2 separate regions of the Homo sapiens genome follow, and region 2 is linked to region 1. The links come from fine-mapping of genetic effects on gene expression. A gene starts in region 1. The other region holds a variant in brackets. All regions are shown on one strand. Distances are between the middles of the regions. Region 1 holds the start of HMOX2 (heme oxygenase 2). Region 2 overlaps HMOX2 (heme oxygenase 2).

The links. PIP is the estimated chance that this variant, and not a neighbour inherited with it, causes the effect.
Region 2: its variant is fine-mapped to the expression of HMOX2 in whole blood (TOPMed, PIP 0.92).

The regions. Positions count from the first base shown.
Region 1 is chr16:4,474,927-4,477,830 of GRCh38, forward strand. HMOX2 (heme oxygenase 2) reads left to right here and starts at 1,472. Exons shown (of 6, transcript NM_002134.4): 1 at 1,472-1,561. It also overlaps a transcript of NMRAL1 not described here. RefSeq lists an enhancer at 1,268-1,769.
Region 2 is chr16:4,503,082-4,505,985 of GRCh38, forward strand. HMOX2 (heme oxygenase 2) reads left to right here. Exons shown (of 6, transcript NM_002134.4): 2 at 2,403-2,529. The coding sequence starts at 2,444. Among named protein-coding and RNA genes, the nearest start is that of HMOX2, 28 kb to the left of the region's middle. The variant C/T (reference allele first, on the strand shown) is at 1,400.

The DNA of each region.
Region 1 (2,904 bases):
TTTGCCTAACTCACTTTTAAAATTTTATTATTTTTATTTTTTTGAGACAGTGTCTTGGTCCGTCGCCCAGGCTGGTGTGCAGTGGCGCGATCTCGGCTTACTGCAACCTCCGCCCCCCGGGTTCAAGAGATTCTCCTGCCTCAGCCTCCCGAGTAGCTGGGATTACAAGCATGTGCCACCAAGCCCGGCTAATTTTTGTATTTTTTAGTAGAGACGGGGTTTCACCAGGTTGACCAGGCAGGTCTCGAACTCCTGACTTAAAGTGATCCACCCACCTCAGCCTCCCAAAGTGCTGGGAGTACAGGTGGGAGCCACCGTGCCCAGCCCTAACTCACTTCTGAAGTTGCTGCTACTTGCACTGATTTCAGTTTTTTTTTGTTTTTGTTTTTTGTTTTCAAGGTGGAGTCTTGCTCTGTGGCCCAGGCTGGAGTGCAGTGGTGGTGCGATCTTGGCTCACTGCAACTTCCGCCTCTTGGGTTCAAGTGATTCTCCTGCCTCAGTTTCCTGAGTAGCTGGGATTACAGGCAGGAGCCACCATGCCCGGCTAAAATTTTTTTGTATTTTTGGTAGAGACGGGGTTTCAACATGCTGGCCAGGCTGGTCTCGAACTGCTGACCTCAAGTGATCTTCCCGCCTCAGGCTCCCAAAGTGCTGGGATTACAGACATGAGCCACCACACCCGGCCCACGATTTCAGTAATTTCTTTGTGTTCAGTAAAACTAAAAAATGACTCTGGGCTGGGTGCGGTGGCCTGTAATTGCAGTGATTTGGGAGGCCGAGGCGGGTGGATCACCTGAGCTCAGGAGTTCGAGACCAGCCTGGCCAACATGGTGAAACCCCCGTCTCTACTAAAAATACAAAAATTAGCCGGGCGTGGTGGCAGGCGCTTGTAATCCCAGCTATTCGGGAGGTTAAGGCAGGAGAATCGCTTGAACCCGGGAGAAGGGGGTTGCAGTGAGCCGAGATCACGTCATTGCACTCCAGCCTGGGCGACGAGCAAAACTCGGTCTCAAAAAAAGAAAAATCATTCTGTCATTCTGGCCGCTGTTTGAAGAATGCGAATAATGCAACAGGGAGATCAGATACAAGACTGGTAACCGAGGTGTCAGAGTTGAGACTCAGTTTCGCAGATTGCATTGGCAAGTGACCAAGTGGGTGGTGCCACGGTTGACAACCCTATTTCTTACATCACTGAGTGGATGTACAAGGATTAAACCACACTGGGGAAGAAAAGTGCTCAACCCTGAGGCACCCTCACACACCTCGGCTCTTGTGAACACTAGTGTTCCTGCCGAAGCACGCCTACTTACCCCGCTGAGCAGAGCCTGAGCCTGCAACCTCCAGAGACCTGGGGAAAGCCACATACTCCGCTTCCCGCCCCCGGCAAGGGCGTGTCAGCTACAAGGGGCGTGTCATCTCTAGGCCCCGCCCCGCGCTGCGTGCCCACGTTGCGCCGGCCTCGCGCCAGTCCGCTGGGCTGCAGGGACTGCGGCGCCTGAGGGAGTCGCTGACGGGCACGCTGACTGGAGGCTGGCGGACAGGCGACAGCGACCTGCGGCAGGTGAGCTGTCCGCGCCCTCCCGGGGCCTTCCTTCCGCCCGGCTTCTCGGACCGCGCTGCGTCCTTCGCGGGCCCTGCCTCGGTCCAGGCCTTCGGACCTGGGCTTGGCCGGGCCACAGCCCTTTGGGTCCCCTGCGCCGGTCTGAGGGGAGACCCGGCCGGGGGCGGCCGGAAGCTGGGTGAGGCCGGGCAGAAGGACGAAGAAGGGCGTGGAGGGGCTGTCAGGGGAGGGCGAAACCGCGGACGCCGCTCTCCAGAAGTCGTCTCCCCGGGGGCGCGGGGAGGCCTGAATGGCTCTCTTTGGCGTCCCCGTTGGGCCCACCCTCTCCCAGCGTCACGGCTATGCTGGGCGAGGTGACCCCCGGGGTCGTAGCTGGGGGCGTCGGCGGTGCAGACAGGGGATGCCGGCAGAGATTGGAGCCCGGCTTGGCTGTTTCCCGGGCTGTTGGCATTGACCGGGGCTCTGCCCTTCCTCTAATGCCCTTATCTCTATAGGAAGTGCCCCTTGAGTGGGTGTCGTGACTTCACGAGTGAACCCTGGTACGCCCTGGAGCAGAGTCGGACTGGGAGGGATCAAGTGTGGGGGCAGCCGGTTAGTCCGGACGCGGGTTTACCTATTACTTTCTGAGCGCAGTGCTCTGGGTGGATTAATTGCCCTGCAAAAGCTGCCGGGACCTCCTTGCAGTCTTTGCACGAGGCCTGCCTGTGTCATGCCATTTAAATCGCGTCTGGGCCGGGTCGGTGGCTCACGCCTGTAATTCCAGCACTTTGGGAGGCCAGGGCGGGCGGATTGCTTGAGGTCAGGAGTCCGAGACCAGCCTGGCCAACATAGTGAAACCCCGTCTCTACTAAAAATACAAAAATCAGCCGGGCATGGTAACGTGAGCCTGTAGCTCCAGCTACTTAGGAGGCTGAGGCAGGAGAATCGCTTGAACCCGGGAGGCAGAGGTTGCAGTGAGCCGAGATCACGCCATTGCACTCCAGCCTGGGCGACAGAGCAAGACTCCATCTAAAAAAAAAAAAAAAAAAAAAAAAAATCGCTTCTGATGAGCCGGTTGTCGTGGCCTGTGGCTGTCCATCCTTACGTACTGTGTTTTGTTGATGGCGCTACAAACCAGACAAGGTGGAGTGTGATTGAAGAAAGAAACGCTGGCCGGTGCAGTGGCTCACTCCTGTAATCCCAGCACTTTGGGAGGCCGAGGCAGGCGGATCACCTGAGGTCAGGAGTTCGAGATCAGCCTGGCCAACATGGTGAAACCCCGTCTCTACTAAAAATACAAAAAAGTTAAACGGGCGGGGTGGCGCGTGTCTGTAATCCCAGCTACTGGGGAGTTTGAGGTTGGA
Region 2 (2,904 bases), 28 kb after region 1:
TGGGATTACAGGCGTGAGCCACCGCGCCCGGCTAGCAAAGCTGTACTTTTACCAAAAAAAAAAAAGAAAACATTTATAAATCAAGGTCTGAAGGCCCATGTGAGGCTTATTCTACAGCTTGCAATGCCTGTTTTTGCCCCTTGGTAAGTGGACGCACAGCTGGGCAGCCTTATGCTATCTCTGTGAACTACCCATTTCTGGCTTTGTTCATAATATTCCCTTGATCTGGAGGCCCTCCCCCAGCCCTGCCCCAAATCCTGTCTGTGTTGAGGGTCCTGCCCCAGGAAGCCCTCTGCATACTCTTCCCTGCATGTAATACCTGCCTGCTTTCACATTCTTCTAGACTGTGCTGTGCATCGTACAGTTCATCAGCATTATTGCAGAGTAGAGTGTCTCTGATTTGGAGTCAAGAGAAGGTTCCATTTTTCTGTACATCCCGATGTTTATTTTCTGAGTGTTCTCAGACATCACTAAGCCTCAGTCAAAATAAAGTATGATCATGATGTAACATTCATTGAGTGCTTATCACATGGTAGGCATTGTGCTATATGAGTTATTGCTTGACTTCCTAAAATAATCCCAGTAGAGATGCTAAATCTAAAGGTGAGAGAGATGGTTCAAAAAGACCTCAGTGAGCAAACCATGTACTATAATATCCTAAAAGATAACAAAAATGTAACTAGGTATCTAGAGAAAACTCAGGAAGGATATGTGCCTTGGGCCTTTTAAGGACCATTTCTTAACACTTCTGTGTTCTTCTTGACACCTGTTTCTGGGTAGAGCACATAGAAAATGCTCAGTAAATAAGTTCTTTTTCCTTGGCCCAGTTTGGCCTGATTTGGCCCCAGTTCTGTCTTTGTGAGTTACTTTATTAGTTGTCGGTGCTACTGTGCTGCTATTCATGTGGAAGATTCCCCAAATGGGCTGCGCCTTACATTGCCTGAGCAGAAGCCCCGAGGGATGGAGGATGAGCTTGCCTTGTTATGGGACTGTGTTTCCCTGGCTGACAAAGGCTCAGCATTTGCAGCAGGCAATGGGAATTGATTGGCCAACTTAATATTTCCTTCAGCCTAGCAAAGTCCTGAGTAGGCTAGGGACAGTCTGCTTTTTTGGTAACTCCTGTAGGCTGCCTTCTGCACAAGGCACCCAGCCTCTCACAGGTAGGATGAACTGGCCTCAGCACGCTTGCAGAGGGGTGGAACTGTGCGTTGCTTGCCAAGCTTTTTGTTTCCCTAAGGTTTTTGAGGTTTTCTTTGTTTTTGGTAACTTTCAATTTTTTTTTTTTTTTTTTTTTTTTGGACAGAGTTTCACTCTTATTGCCCAGGCTGGAGTGCAGTGGCGCGATCTTGGCTCACTGCAACTTCTGCTTCGTAGGTTCAAGTGATTCTCCTGCCTCAGC[C/T]TCCTGAGTAGCTGGGATTACAGGCACGCGCCACCACATCCGGCTAATTTTGCATTTTTAGTAGAAACAGGGTTTCTCCATGTTGGTCAGGCTGGTCTTAAACTCCTAACCTCAGGTGATCCACCCACCTTGGCCTCCCAAAGTGGTGGGATTACAGGCATGAGCCACCGTGTCTGGCCTAACTTTTAATTTTGATACGGTCTTTTTTTTTTTTTTTTTTTTTTTTTTAAGACAGTTTCGCTCTTGTTGCCCAGGCTGGAGTGCAACGGCGTGATCTCGGCTCACTGCAACCTCTGCCTCCTGGGCTCAAGAGATTCTCCTGCCTGAGCCTCCCGAGTAGCTGGGATTACAAGTGTGCACCACCATGCCCGGCTATTTTTTGTATTTTTAGTAGAGACAGGGTTTCACCATGTTAACCAGGCTAGTCTCAAACTCCAGTCTGCCTCGGCCTCCCAAAGTGCTGGGATTACAGGCATGAGCCACTGTGCCCTGCCTTGATACAGTTTTAAGCATACAGAAAAATGGTAAGAATAGTACAAAGAACTCTCATACCTCTTCCCCAGATTCACTGCTAGGATTTTGCCTTGTTTGCTTTTCTGACTTGCCAGTGTCCCCCACCCTGCAGCATATGCACATGCACACACACTGTCTTCTGAACCATCTGACAGGGAGTTGCAGGCAGTGTACCTTTACTTCTGAATACCCCAGTGTGTATTTCTTAGGAACAAAGACATTCTCTTATATAATCGCAGTACAATTATTTTTAAAAACCAGCAAGCTTAATGTCAATACAATGCTATTACCTAATACATTGTTCATATTCAGATTTTTTCCATATTCCACTATGGTCCCAGTAATGGCAGAGCTTTATTTTAAAGAAAACAATCCTGGGGTGTGTGGGTGTCACCTTGGTTACATTCGCTCTGAGGAAAGCAGAACCGACAGGTATTTGGGGAAGTGACTGCCGTGGGTGCCACATCACCAGCTCCTTGTGTCTCTGCAGGACCAGAGGAGCGAGAGCAGCAAGAACCACACCCAGCAGCAATGTCAGCGGAAGTGGAAACCTCAGAGGGGGTAGACGAGTCAGAAAAAAAGAACTCTGGGGCCCTAGAAAAGGAGAACCAAATGAGGTGAGCGATGGGGGCTGGCTGCACTGAATCAGGTGGGCCCAGCACCTGTCGTGCTCAGCACACCTGGTTTTGTCTGTTGGCAGCACTGGGGAGTGGCCATGGGCCATGAGCTCTGGACCCCTGGGTGCCTGCTTGGCCCTGCAGGGACCGCATACAGCTTCGGCTGCTTAGAACTCTCCCCACTGGTCCATTGTCTCATCCAAGGAGGCAGGGCAGGTGCTCCTGGGAGTGCTGATAGGATTTGATGGTAGTTATCCTTTTTTCTTTTTAAAAACTTGTGCGTTTCCTCATCTGGGCTGAGAAAGGGTAAACGCAGGCAAAGCTGGCTCTGTTCAGTCTTTTACCACATAAAAGACTGCAGGGCAGCCTTTCCTT